2 linked regions of the Homo sapiens genome follow. The protein of the gene in region 2 interacts with the protein of the main gene of each other region in a biochemical or structural test. Each region holds a gene or a part of one and is shown on either strand. Other genes may lie near its edges.

Region 1 (7,748 bases), on a different chromosome or scaffold from region 2:
TTTCCAGATGAAAATGTGAAAGGGAGCTATTCTATTCAGAACATGAGAAGGTTTGGACAGAGGGAAGGAGGAAATATACTGTGTGCTCTTAGAAGAATGAGCAGTTTGAAATATAGGGAGGAGGAAAGGAAAGAGGGAAGACAAAAGGAAATTGGAAAGGTATGGCTAATAATTGTCTTCTACATACCCCTAAATATTTTCCAAAGTTTCAGTTATTCAATAAACAAAGTATGTAAGAGATATGCAAGGGAGGGCGAGGGTTTAGGGTATGGTAACTGTAGAATGATACTGACTTTGAACATATTTCAGAGGAAAAAAAGGAAAGGGCTCCCTTCATGCTCAAGAGACATTACAAAGACACATAGTATTTCTTTAGTATCTTTGAAGTATATGGTTTTAAAACCTTTCTGGAGGCTTCAGCATTACATAAATTTCCATAAGGCTGCGCCGAAGGAAAATGCTCAATTAAACCATGAATCAAAGAAAATACTGAAATGAGATCAGCCTGAGGGAAAACAACGAAAACAGGTGTGGAATCGTATGATTGGTGTCTTCTTCACGCAGGCAGCCATGTGATCAGCTGTGAGAGTCTAATCTGGCCATGTGGCCTAAGAAAAAAGCTTGCTGAGGTGACCCTTTGAGGTATACATGTTCAGCAAAATCATCCTGTTTAATCTGGCTAAATTAAAATAACACATATTATAACATAGGGCCACTGGTATATAGCCAAACAGGCTGTGCCCCACAACTCCACGGAGCCACATTCACACGGTAGTTTCCTACTACTACAGCCCTGCTGTGAGGTACATCTAATGAGGTGAAAGTAGCTCTCTCTGATGGCAGAGGACTTGACCGCCATTCAGAGAAACACAAGATGTGAAAAGAAACAGCCTCTCACACAGGTTATGGCTGGCTGTGAACTCCACTTGCACCACTGAGTGACCCTGGGCTAGTTACTTCACCTCTCTTAGCCTCAGTTTACTCATCTGTTAGTCGAGGCTAAAAACACTTAGGTTACAGGGCTGTTATAAGATTGATGATGATATGTATCCAGTACCCACATGGAATAACTGCTCAGCAAATGGCATCCATTATCAGCAGTAGCATCCTGGTGTTCCACCTGTGGCAGCCAAAATATAATCCAAGTATCGATCTCTCATAAGCAGAAAATTAGATTCAACAGAACAACGTAAAACAAAGCACAAGAAAAAACAAAATCAAAACAATCCACAAGGCGCCTCTGTAGGATAAGCGGAATTTTGGCAGACGTTTGTCTCCAAATGTATTCTATGATTTCCATTTCTTTATACATCATTTTATAGCAATAAAATGCAAATGTGAAATGCAGGGAACTGTAGAATACCTTTCTTCCAGTCTGACCGTGACTTGCTGCAGGATCTGGACTGCCTGCTTGTGGTACTCCAGCTGAGCTTGCACAAGTGCAGAGAGCTGGCTCACTTGTTCAATCTGCAGATTGATGGGAAAATCATGCCTTAGTTTTACACGTTACCATCCCTAAACAGCCACTACTGTTTCATACATACACCAGGGCTGCCCTCAACACACAGCCCCTGGTTGGTGGTGCTGATGACTGTGTGATAAGCCAACTAAGATAGATAGTTCTGCAGGTTTCAAATCCATCAAGGATAAAAGAAAGCATCCTTATGCTTAGAATCATGCGTATCAGTACCATGAGGAGAAGCAACATGGGTAACCCTCAGGAAGACCATATAGCTCTAAAGAGTCTCATGCTTAGCTACAATCTTGTATCTGGGATTTGACTTCTTTTATTCTATAGAAAAGAAGGTACACTGGCCAAAGGACTCTTTGTTCCTTATACTTTTCATGCTGTTAATATCGGTACTGTTAATAAAAATGTGACAATATCTCACATAATGTACCCGGAGAGGCGACATGGTATGACAGAAAATCTTCTGTGCTCTCTGAGCCTCATCTGTAATGTAAAAGGGTTAAATCAAGTGACATCTTGAGTTCATTCTTGCTCTAATATTCTAAGCTTGATTTCTCTTGATTTTATGTTTCACATTATGATCCAGCTGGGTAGCAGCCTCCAAGTCAACAGAAGCAGTGTTGTCCCATGAATTTGGGGATGGGGAGGGGTGCTGTGTTGCAGGGAAGGAGCACTGTGATTTGGAGCACCCCTCATGCACACAGTATTCCTCTCGAGGAGTTAGGTGGACACAAGTTGTTTTACATAAACAAAAACCTACACTGTCTCCAGGTGGTAGGAAAGTCTGGATATGTTCAACACACTTCCCCTGCCACAGTCAGGAGTAAGGCAAGTAGGCAATGTGATGGTTAATTTTAGGTGACAACTTGACTAGATTAAGGGATCCCCAGATAGCTGGTAAAGCATTATTTCTGGGTGTGTCTGTTAGGGTGTTTCCAGAGGAGACTGGCATTCACTTAGTAGACTAAACAAAGGAAGAGCTGCCCTTCCCTATGGGGGTGGAGACCACCCACTCAGCTCAGGACCCAGATAGAATAAAAAGCAGAGGAAAGGCAAGTTTGTTCTCTCTCTCTTCTAGCGAAGGGACACCCATACGCTCCTGTCTTTGGATGTCACAGCTCTAGGCTTTCTGGCCTTTGGACTCTGGGACTTGCACCAGTACTACTGATGCCCCCTGCTCCACAACTGAGTTCTCAGGCCTCTATTGAGTTATACATAGATCCTCAGAAATATCCTTTATCTTCCCACTATTGATAAGAGAGATGGTCCCTGACTTTACGATTTGTAGGCTTTATGATGGTGCAAAATTGATATGTGCTCAGTAGAAACCATACCTCAAGTACCCTTACAACCATTCTGTTTTTTACTTTTAATGCGTTATTCGATAAATTACATGATATATTCAAGACTTTAACCCCATCATAAGTTAAGGAGCATCTGTACTTTAAGATTCATTAGCAGTCGAGAATCTAGTTAAACTACAGGAATGCAGAAGAAACTTTTCTATTTCTCAGTCTACTTTATGACTGACAATTATTTAAAATAAATAACTATCTACTGAAGTTCTTATCACATAGTGTAATCAGATATTAATGCTTTTAAGGGTTATGGCCTTTAACATATTAATGTTGTGCCTCGATGATAAGATTAAATTGAAAACCACAGGAGTCACTTACATCCATCTCCAAGAGATTGAACATGCTTGACTCAGCAATTTCCTTAGACTCATCAAATTTCTCTAGAGCTTGACGAAGCTCTTCATCCGGAATCTTGCCTTGTCGTTTCTTCTTATAATCAAAATCCAGGCGTCGACCCTCCAACTTCTTTAGATGATGCTGCAAAAGTCAAGGGCAGGAATAGGCTTTGAAAGGGCTTATGGAAAAGGCTTATTTGAGCTCACTTCTCCATCACGTCCATTAACTTCCAAATTAAGATAGGCTAAGTTTTAAAATACAACGCCACCAGAGAAATAAAGAAACATGCATCAATGGGGCCAGTGCTTTCAAAGGCTAAATATGGGGGAATATCTTTAAAAATAATTAAGAATAAAAGATAAATTATAGGAAATATCAGTGCCCTTTATTTTCTGGCCTTGTCAGGCCAAAGCCAAGCTGGACTAAGCCTTTGCAGCCCATGACAGAAACAGAGAAGGAATGCACATGCCCTACACACAATGAAAGGACACACTCACAGGCCCCACAGGCCCTGTCTTCAAGAGAAATGGTATCTCATGAGAAGCCAGAGGAAAAACTCTTTCCTTGAAATTAAGTGAGATAGAAATGGCAGTCTTGCTTTTCAAATCATCCAGTCTGTTAGAATCACGTAAGTTGCTCATCACAATATGGATTCCTGAGCTCTTGAATCGATATCTAGGGTGGGGGCCTAGGAATCTACATCTTAACACTTGCCCCAGCTGACTGATGCAGCTGTCACCAGAGAAACTAAATCCAGTGATTTAGTTTAAGCCTCCCACTTGACATATAATTGAACTCAAGAACAAAATCTCACTTGGAAGGGACCTACCAAGGGATTATATCTAATGCTCCATGCTGAGCTTCAATCCCCTCCTTGCACCATACCTGGTAGATGGCTGCCCAGGCTCCACCCATCATCTCTAGTGACCAGGTAGCAAAGTAGTTTTCCAAAGCTAAAAAGTATTGTTTTTCCCCGATAGCTAGTCTTTCACTACTAATGGATGAAGGAAAATCCTGGATTTTCCCTTGTTACTAGTATGTATGGAGCAGAATGAAAGGAAATGAAAACAAAGTAGGGAGTAGTTAAAAAAATGAAAAGGAAAGGAGGAAGAATAATATTCTAAACCTTCCCTCACACTGCATCCCCCGCCCCTCAGTCCATGCCCTGATCCAAAAACTAAATGCTCATTTGGAAGGAACTTTCTTTTTTAAACATTTGAGCTATAGGGTACAGCATTGGAGTCAGAGTTCTATTTTGGATTTAGGGTCAGTCTGTCACTTACTAACTCTATAATCTTGAGCAAATGGTACTGCTAAAGGAGATTTAAGCTAGAATAAGGAGGAGGAGGCCCTAGTTCAAGTTATGGCAATCCATTTTACACCCAACAAAGTTTCAAAAAAGCTCAACAAATATTTGTTAGATAAAAAAAAGTGAGCAAACATTCCACACTCAAAGACATATGAACTTTATTATAAACAGCTCAACTGCTCTACATGTTTTAGAAAGTGGCTAGTTGGTATTCTTCCTCAATCCTAACAACCATTATGAAAATATTAATATAAAAACACATAACATCCATCTAATTTCTAGACTTGGAAAAAAATAAAAATATGTGCTTATGCAGTGATAGAATAACTATTTATTTAAGCTAACAACTAGTACAACTAACATTTTAGTGGGTGAAATCAGCCCAGCAAACCATAGAATAATTAACAAAACTGTGTATTCTCAGGAAAAGTATATTATCCTCTGGAGAAAAAGTCTGAAAAAAACTATTCAATATGAAAATCAAACATAGAGAAGCCAGAGACAGCCCTCATGAGTGGCACAGTCATAACAGGCTGAAAAGTATCACATTTCTGGTTTCTCTCATTTTGTCTTACTGGGTTGTTTTGTAATTAACGTGCCCAGAGCTGACAACACACAGGGTAAGCTAAAAAAATGTTTTCTAAAGAAAAAAGGCATCTGCATCTGTATGATTTCAACTGCCCACTTTCCAGAAGACTCATTGTACATACTTGAATTTCCCTAAGATCTTTGTCATGAAGATTCTGAAGAGGGTCAATGAAGTTCTGCTTCACTTCTATGTCCAAAGAGTCTTTGACCTCCGACAGTTCCCGCATGGCCTCCCCGACCTCACCAAGTGCTGGGCCTAGGAGAGAATAAAGCTCTTTCATGTTACAGAATAAAGATGAAATGCACTCGCAATAACAGGGCCCTTCACAGATGAAAACCCAAAGGATTACCACTTGTCTTCTAAAGACAACAGACAAGAGAGAATAGGTATCTTCAGTTCACTCCAGGCAACAGACTCAATGCCCCCTAAGAGGGTAAATACCTCTCATCAAGAATGGAACAGTTACTTTTTCCTTTAAGAAGCAATTTAGGAAGCTCCCTGCCCTCTCTTGTAAGTACCAGCTTTCCCTAATGTGGGACTAGCTTAAGGCAAATCTATTAGCAGAAGCAAGTACCAGAAATAGCCGGGTTCAACCAGGAAGGAGATCCCACATCACAAGGGGGTGAAAATAGAAGATGTTGGGTGTGGTAGCTGAGTTTTGGGGGAGACAGGGTGAAGGAATAAATCATGTCTCACCTTGGGCAGTAGAACTAGGTACCATATACAAGTGAGCAAAGATCTATGAAAAAGGCCATGAGGCAGGGAGGGCTTTGAATCATGCTGACTGTGCCTGCTCACTCTGCTTCAATACTCAATGACTGCCAGAAACACCCAATAGAAAGTGCCAAGGAGGCATCTGGATATGTCAACCAAAGCTGTTGTAAAGACTGAGGTCTTATAGTGGGGGGGGTGGGAAGAAAACTTGTAAGATAAATCACATTAGAGCGGATGAAATAATTCTGAAAACAAATTTTTGGCCCATGTGTGTAGGATCTAAAACTGAAAACCAAAATATAAAATGATTTGACCGATTCCCTACAGAATTTCTTACCAGCACCAAAATCCCCATGGACAAATGAAAGAATTACAATGTGAGGAAGCACTTGTTACCAAAGTTGCAATCATCTCCAAGCTCTCTTCCAAATTTGAGCATGGCCTCTGCCAGCAGCGCCTCTGCCTGAGGATAGCCTGGCCCCTTCTCCTGGCCACGGATTTTTGACATGGTGTTGATCATGCTGAGCTTAGCTCTGGAAGCTGAAGGTGAAGAGAGAACAAGCTTTCAGAGTAGGCAATGTGACACTGCGGAAATAGGGCTGGATGGAGGATCAGGTCTCAGAGCAGCCTACAAAGTAGCTCAGCTACTGATAAGTGTACCTTCAGTACGCTCCAGTGTTCTCTCCGTCAGTCAGTCTTATCAACCACTTTTTTAAAGCACTAAACTCTCCCTTTCCCTTAAGATCTTAAAATGAATTACAGCAATTCTGTTCTGGATGAAGCAGGATTACACGCTCAAATTCTATCACTGTGTGCCCTTCCCCATCCTCCCTTCACTGTGGTGGCCCCTGCAGTGACTCTGTGGAGCTGGGTGCTTCCATGGAGAGCTTTTTACAAACTCTCGAATTATGTGATGATCTCTAAATTTTATTCTAGTTTTATAGTTCAATTCTAGGAGTCTAAGGATTAAAATAAGGAACCAATGGTAAATTCCTGCAGAGTGGGCCTTATGCCTTGTTTCACTTATACCATGTATGAAACAGAACTATTTTCAAAATCATTTCTCAACTAAGATTCTGATGGTAAACAGACCCATGAAGAGCAAAAATACTGTGTTCATTTAAAAGACTTAATCACTTCTCCAGCACATAACTAGAGAAAATTAGTTTTGTGCCTCAAAGAGAACATTTCAATTTCTCTTTCTTTGTTTTTGTTTTTATAAAAGAAGTTGCCTAGAAACCAATTCCAGTGTTAGTGGCAAAAACAGCTTTATTAAAAAAATTGTTAAAGCCTATGACTTAATTGATGCTAGGATACCTAGGTTCCTCAGGTTCAAAATTAGAGTTGGGATTACACATTAACCTAGGACTATACCCCAAATCCCATCTTCAATGGAAACCCCAGATAGAATCACAGCTTAAGGTACTTCCAGCATTCAGTGGCTGACAATCTTGACATTTATTTCACAAGGCTTTTATTTAAACTTTGAGTCTTAGAGGCATTGAATAGAGATGAGAAAAGTTATCAGGAGAGCACATCCTGCAACCCTGTCCCAGGGATATTACAATGAGCACGACAATTATGGTCCCTGCTTTCACAAAGTTTATAATGAACTGAGGGTAGAGTCTATTTTAAAATTAATTAGAGTGAAGTAAATATGCCAAGTGCCTTGATGGGGGATTGAGGAGAGTCCCAGATATGCGGCACTGTCCTCATCAGTTGGGGAGGGGCATCGCAAAGGATTCCTGGAGGGAAGTATCTTTAAGTTTAGATCCAAACAGTATGTAGCAGTTAGGCTAACAGCACATGTAAAGGCTGGTGGTGACTGGAAAAAATATAAAATTCATTTCTTATTTGCTTTTTCATATAAAAGGGATCATATGTTAAGTTTGAAAAATAGAAAATGCAGGCTAAGTGTGGTGGCTTATGCCTATAATCCCAGCACCTTTGGTGCCCAAAGCAGGAGGATCA
Region 2 (7,748 bases):
GTGCAATGGTGTGATCTTGGCTCACTGCAACCTTCACCTCCTGGGTTCAAATGATTCTCCTGCCTCAGCCTCTCAAATAGCCACCACACTCAGCTAATTTTGTATTTTTAGTAGAGATGGGGTTTCATCATGTTGGTCAGGCCAGTCTTGAACTCCTGACCTCAAGTGATCCACCCACCTCAGCCTCCCAAAGTGCTGGGATTACAGGCATGAGCCACAGCAACTGGCCGATCTTGTTTCTTTTAAAGGTTCTCTGGACTGATTAAAAGAGAAAAAGTGTTTTTTTTGTTTGTTTGTTTGTTTGTTTTAAGTATTCTTTGTAAGCTCTTGCTTACCACAGTTATGGGAACAAAGCACTAAGGACTGATTGGCAAAGTAGCAAAAGCAGTCAGCCTTATTGTAAAATCATGTCAACGTCTAGTTTTTAAACTTTTTTTTTTTTTTTTTTTTTGAGACAGAGTCTTGCTCTGTTGCCCATGCTGGAGTGCAATGGCGTGATCTCAGCTAACTGCAAGCTCCGCTTCCCGAGTTCATGCCATTCTCCTGCCTCAGCCTCCCAAGTAGCTGGGACTACAGGCACCCGCCACCATGCCCGGCTAATTTTTTTTGTACTTTTAGTAGGGACGGGGTTTCACCGTGTTAGCCAGGATGGTCTCGATCTCCTGACCTTGTGATCCGCCCACCTCAGCCTCCCAAAGTGCTGGGATTACAGGCGTGAGCCACCACACCCAGCCTAATTTTTATACTTTTATAGCTGCTGTCAGCATATTCCTTATGCTAATCACAAATAAAACTTGGACCCTTTATTTGTATTTGATATTCCTTATTATGGAAATATAGTTGGGAATTAGTGCCATATACAGATGCTATAGAAACACACTACAATGTAAGCCAAAAATAAATGTTTATAGAATGTACTGATAAACAAAGCTGCTAAAAAGATAAGGAAATACGGTCCCTCCAAATAGTGTTACATACTGTGTTTGCCTCATATTAGAGAGGTACTTTACAAAACTTTATAGTTTTACAATATATCTGTATTTATGAACCTTATAGGAATCTCATCACAATCCCATAATGTAGACTAGGCAAGAATTATTAACACTTTACTCACTGCGAAATCTCAACTTCAGAATGAGTGTCTGACTTGCTTTAATATATGATGAATAAGTGGTAGAGCCCAGAATAAAAATATGGGTTTCCCAATTCCTGGTGATTCTACTATTTTTAACATATACATACTTACACTTCCTCAAACAGAGTTGTAGCTCAGCCCTCTTTATATCTAGTGTAATGACAAAATGAGTACCATCATTATGCCCAAGTGTTACCTACCCCCACTGACCACTGATGACCACGTTCCCCCCGAGGGACTGGTCCTTGCTACTGGAGGAGTAGCTGCTTCACTGGGTGGGTTGTGGGATACAAATTCTAGGCCACTGGATATGGAACCCCTCCCAGCAGAAACTCTGTGATTTCGAGGATGTCGCTGGGCCTTTGGGGACATCCTTGGAGGCCCTAAGGAAGAAACAGTGAACATCACATAAATTCCATGATATTCATCAGTACTACTTTTCTGCTAAATACACCCATTCACACACACATGCACACACACTCACTCACTCTACAGTTTTTCCTTGGTTAAAAATAGAAAAAAAAAAAACACCATACATATTTTTTTGGCCATACTAATTCTTTCAGAATTATTTTGTGGAATGCCACAAAGTTTTATAAATAAATTTTATTATTTCCCTTTATTTTTAAAGAAAGGGAGGGATGAAGTTGGTGGTAAGAAATCAACAATAAGATGTCAACTCTTAAAAGAACTGTAGCAATCTGTTTCAACTATGTCTTATTTGTAAAGAAATATGTTACTAGAAATTATGACTACATGATAAAATATTTTTAACTTTCCATATATTTTACCTTTCCCTGACCCGAATTTTCTACATTACTTCTAAAATTAGAAAAAAAAAATTTAAACAGAAGACTATTAATCCCTATACACCCCGATACCACTAAAACATATGTACATACCCTTCTTAAATTTCTCTAAAATTTTAGTTTATTTATCTCTTCTATCATGATCATCAATTTTAAAACTCGGCTTAAAACAGTAAGCAGTAACCTGTAAGCAGTTTCTTAGGCTTAGCAGGCTGTGAGCTGAAAATTCTATTAAAGGGATGACTTGTATTAGTCTATTAATAGATGACCAAAATAACTGACATTTGGGGGAGAAATCAGCACTATATGAATTGTCAAAATTCTACATTATTGATTCTGCCATGCCACTAGTGACTACTCTTTCTAAATCAGTCTACTGTGCATTAGACCAATCTATCAGGTAAAAGAGTGGACAGAATGGCCCTCATCAGAGAAGCCTACTGGTGTTAACACCAAGCGAAAACTTCCCTAATGTCAAAGCCAAATCTCCTCACTCTCTCACCCGGCTGCCAAACTCTTTAGAACTTCAAATTAATATATGTTGCCAATAGAATTATTATTTTATTTTTATTTTTATAAGACAGAGTCTGTCTCTGTCGCCCAGGCTGGAGTGCAGTGGTACGATCTCAACTCACTGCAACCTCTGCCTCCCAGGTTCAAGTGATTCTCCTGCCTCAGCCTCCCAAGTAGCTGGGTATTTTTAGTAGAGACGAGGTTTCACCATGTTGGCCAGGCTGGTCTCAAACTCCTGACCTCAAGTGATCCACCTGCCTCAGCCTCCCAAAGTGCTGAGATTACAGGCGTTAGCCACCATGCCTGGCTTCCAACAGGAATTTAAACACGAACATGATCTTTAGAAGAATGCTAATGTTATACACTATAATTTTCAAATGGAAATATTCAACATCTCTGAATGACACAGAAAGTATATTTCTGTGTGAAGTTAATACATGAGCAGTCCTTAAATCTTAATGTAATAAAGATGTTCACAGTCATTAATGATCATGTTTTATTTAATATATTCTCATTAAATAAACATCGCTTACTCAAATGATGGACTACAAGAAAAATATCAACAGAATTTTGCATTTAGTGACCACTATTAAGGCCCTTTTGAGCAAAGAAGTCACCTTGAAAATCAGTGGAACTTGCTCTTCAAGGTTAGATGCTTCAGTCAAAGTCATATGACCTGCCTGCTTAGATGGTAACAATTTATTTAAAAGTAGCCAATACAGTTTTCTCCAGGGAAGCAGGAGAAACACATTTTGTGCGGAAAACTTTATTAGTCCCAACATAAGCAATATTAACTAATTTTAATGAACAAATCAGATTAAAATTTTAACACAAATATTCAGAACTAGTATCAAAAGGACATTATGATTCAGAAAACAGGTTTTTAATATATGGGTGGCATTTAAATTAGAATGTTACCTTTCTACAACATATCCCTGTATTTGATATGTGGCAATGATGGATTTAGCGCCAAATACTGAATAAGAATTACAAGATTTTATTCTTATTTTTGACGAGGAAAGAAATAGCTAAATATTCAAATTCATATGTCGTTTTTATCAATTTTATCTCAGATCAAGGACTTCTTCCAGATTAAAGCAGCCTTTCACTATGTAAGATTGCAAAGCTAACTTTAAAAAAATTACTCAGTTAAATTTAGAATTCTTCTGGCATTCTAAAAATCAACTACTTTAATCTAAGGGCAGACACGCAAAGTCAGCTACATGGGCTGTCGCTCTCAAAAAAGACCCAGAAAACACCATCCCTGCTTATGGCCAATAGGAAGGTTCACTAGGACCTTGGCCAAAGAGCTGTAAAATGAACCTAAGTTCAAGACTGGCTGAAGAAAGTTCATTTGTTTAACTACTGTATACAGTGCAAATAAGGAGGGGGAAGGCTGTGGGGCAGACCCTTCTGGGGCTGTAAAGAAGCATAATTATCAGGCAGAGATAAACCCCCTTTTTAACAACAATTCAAGAGAGTTTATAGCTTCACACATTTATCAAATTTCTCTCTAATGAACAAAAGGTTAATAGAAATAGTTTTAATAAACTAAAGTTAAAACACAGAAATTATAGGTTATTAAATAATGAAGAGGAAACTATTTTGTAATTATAAACTCACATAGGAGTTAAACAAAGACAAACAAAAACATGAACAAATTGTGGTATTGTACCTTCTGAAGACATGCGTTTAGGCATAGTAGAGACAGGAGCTGGAGAACCATGAGCAGAGGGGTGAGACGGGGGTCTGGATGGCCGCGAGGGGGGCCTGGAGGGCGGCCGTGTAGGGGTGGCTGCCCGAGGTGGAAGAGAGTTGGGACCTGACTGGTAGCGAGAAGGTGGGCGAGAGGAAGGAGATGGGCAAGGCGATGGCCAGGGAACACCTGACAGAACAAATGATATGAAGGAAAGTATAAAAACTAAAGAAAAAAATGAGGGAAAAAAGTAAACAGAAAAAAAGTAAAATGACAAAAATGATTTCTTGTACATTTTAACCCTTTGAGGACAGTCATTTGATTTGTGATAAGTTTTAGCATAACTTAACTGACATAAATTCACATTTTACTTTAACCTCCTTAAGATTAAGTCTGTTTAAATGAATACACGTTCCCAAAGGGTTAATTAGGATCTATACACACTATTGAAGAAGACAGTTAAGACTTTGCCTATTAATCCTGCTTCTATAACTGTTTCTCAGTAACTGGTTGTTTAAAGGAATATAACATACACTAGATAATTTCACATAATAAATCACAATAATTCCTACTCAGGAGTAAGATTATTTACTGTATTAGTTTTAACTCTGAGGCATAACGAAAATAAGCAGTAGCTATTATATCCAATTAGAAATGCTGGTTCCTTACAATTATCTATGATTTTCATCAGGTTTACACTTGAACCCAGAACTCAGTTTGGAATCTTATTAAGCAAGTCCCATTTAAGTAGAAATAAAACATTACTCTTCTAGAGTTTGTGACTCCTGTGAGTATCAAATGATAATATTCATTGCTATTTCAAAAAAAAAGTCTTGACCTCATTAAACTAGAAAAAGGGAGACCTTCTAAATAATTTATACAGTTAAACACTTATCTAAGCGACTGCTTAATAAATACTGCAACTACAAAGCAGTCATCACCAAATAAATTTATACTGATGGATATGCCTAGGTAAAGATACAGCTAGTATTTAACATTACATATCACTTACCTTAATCTTATCAAACAGTCCAGGTCTCCTCTCCATAGGGTTCCACACACTTAAGTATCATATATTTCTCAGCCCCCTTCAGGTTTTTTAACTTTAAAATTCTGTTTATAAACAACTAAAATCTTTCCTCAGTGAGCAAAGAAATTTCACCCCCAATATTAAGTACTGAAAATACTCAAGAGTGTCCATTTGGAGAGGAATTCTGGAGAAAAGACTCAATGAAAACAAATGAAATTGGAAACTTAGTGTTCTCTATTTTCATCTAACTTTCCAAATTTAAATAGCTAAAATTGAATGTCCACTCTTTTCCCACAAAGTTAGTAACATACTATTGCTATTACTATTTCCATACCATCCATAGAACTGTTGTTCAGTATCCCTGATTTATGGAAAAGATCCACAACCTACAAGATATATTCAACCTAGATTTAGAGGTAGAGTAAAAAATGTCTTCCTACTAAAGATTCAGGTTTCTTTTACTTAAGTTGCTAAACTGTAACATCCACCCTTAGACTAAGGGTTGTTTTTGTTGTTTTTTAAGCAAATTTCTCTAGTCACTTTCTTCACATGACTCTTGATCATGTCTTGTATTATAAGTTACCTCAGATCCTTTCTTGAAGTAAGCATAATATAGAAACAAATAATGAAAATTGATCTATATTAACCACAGTGTTGCACATAGGTTAGAATTTTCCATATAAATTATGTCTAAAAAATTTTATTATCCAGTGTTTTTAAAATTGAGAACCTACCCAAAGTTTCCAATTTCTTTATATGTGAAGTGTTTTTGGCCAAGTGATTGTCTTGGGTTAAATGTAGCACTTTATCTTAGTACATCATGAATATTTCATCATGCTAAATAATATATATGTCAATGACATATACAATGTTTTACTAATTTAATATCCACAAAAGCCAATTTTAAGTAATGCTGAAGTGAAAGCTACTCACCAAATCATTAAAGTGCACATTCATATCAGTTATGTAAACTATTTTAAGTATTTTAAGTATTTAGAAAACTATTTTATCAATGATATTGACAAGTCTGGTCAAAATACTTGCCTCCATTAACTACTCTTTGGTCTGAACCAGAATTCGGGTTGAAATCTGAAGTGTGAGAAGTGGATCTTGATGGCATGGAGCCCGATCCAGGCTGGCCCATACGCGGTGAATTCTGTCTCCCACTTCCCCAGGATATGACTTCTCTATTTCTTTGTCCAGGAGGAATATATTTATTTTCCCTGAAAATGAGAGATCCTCTAAATCATTTTATTCTAAAAGGTACCAAGCCAATGAAACATATCTAAAAGTCATCTAGACAGAAGGGAATGCTTGTTACAAAAAGGTTCTACACTAAACCAAACTGCCTCACTCCCAGATGCCCCTGTTCTTCCATCTTACCCTGAGTTCTAACCTCTGGACTGTCCCTTCCCTTAGATTCTGCTCCTAAGCACAAAGTTTAACAGATGCGTGCTCATTCTCATCCCACTTGACCTCTCTATGGCTGATTCCATCAATCTTGGTCTATCTTCACAACATTTTTTGTCCTTCACTTTCTCAATTTTATTTTCTCTGAGATCTCTTCTCTCACTGGCTGTTCTTTGGTTTTTCATGGCTCCAATATCGGCAATGCTGATGAAACCTCAAACTGAACCGCCAGTCTCACAGTGTCAACATCTATCAGTGGACATGTCAATTCAAATCACCAGACTCTAAGCTGACTGCCTTTAAGAGAGGATGCATCTCTTACTTTACTAGATAGGTAGCAGGTATTTCTCAACACGTTTATGAATAAATGAAAGACCCACAAGCCCACATATGCAATTAGCTGCACAAACGGAGTCACTGTTTTTCCCCTCAAACTTGCTCCATGTTTCCTCTCTCTCTTACCAGTACATCCATTAAGTCACTTAGTTATCAAATAAACCTCAGGCTCATCCCTTAACTAGGTGGTTACCAAATTCTCACAGTTGAACTATTTCAGTGCACTAACTGTTCTCTGTGTCTCAGCCAGTCCTCAATGCCCCAGGGTTTATTCACCCCATCTCCTTCCAACAGGGTGCTCTTTAGCATGACATGCCAAGTCCTTTAATGACCTCAGTTCCTACTATCAACTGCCACTGCTGCACCTGACACAGATCCTGTGTTCCAGACACATGCAACAACCAGCCCTCTCCTGAGCTGGCCAAATTTTCTCATAGCCATGCTTGTACATGGCTTTTCATCAGGTGATAAACTCTTCTCCCAACTCTTCTCTAAGTGTCAAAGACCCTATTATCTTATCACAAAATGTCACCTCCTCAATGAGGTTTTCTCTGACTCTACAGGTTATGCTAGCTCCTCCTCATTCTGTATGTTCCTAGTACTTTGAACATGCCTTTAACCAAGCAAATCATATTGTACTGCTGTGATTGTTACACGTGTCCCCCACCAGATAACTATTTTAACAAGCTCTTCAAGATCTTGGATTGCTCACCGTGATATACCAACACTTGGCTCCACAGAGCTTACTCTCAAAAGCATATTTTCCAAGATCACCATAACCTTTTCTCTAACAGATCTTAAACCAATTCTACTTGCATT

What was found.
Region 1: the proteins of ATXN2 (region 2) and SH3GL2 form a complex in vitro, tested with the Homo sapiens proteins (one study listed by BioGRID).

What each region holds. Positions count from the first base shown.
Region 1 is NC_000009.12:17,784,950-17,792,697, reverse strand, and holds part of SH3GL2 (endophilin-A1), read right to left. Parts: intron 6,318-7,748; coding exon 6,174-6,317; intron 5,319-6,173; coding exon 5,185-5,318; intron 3,307-5,184; coding exon 3,148-3,306; intron 1,468-3,147; coding exon 1,364-1,467; intron 1-1,363. UniProt on the Homo sapiens protein: Implicated in synaptic vesicle endocytosis. May recruit other proteins to membranes with high curvature. Required for BDNF-dependent dendrite outgrowth.
Region 2 is NC_000012.12:111,512,022-111,519,769, forward strand, and holds part of ATXN2 (ataxin-2), read right to left. Parts: intron 6,407-7,748; coding exon 6,228-6,406; intron 4,343-6,227; coding exon 4,133-4,342; intron 1,519-4,132; coding exon 1,336-1,518; intron 1-1,335. UniProt on the Homo sapiens protein: Involved in EGFR trafficking, acting as negative regulator of endocytic EGFR internalization at the plasma membrane.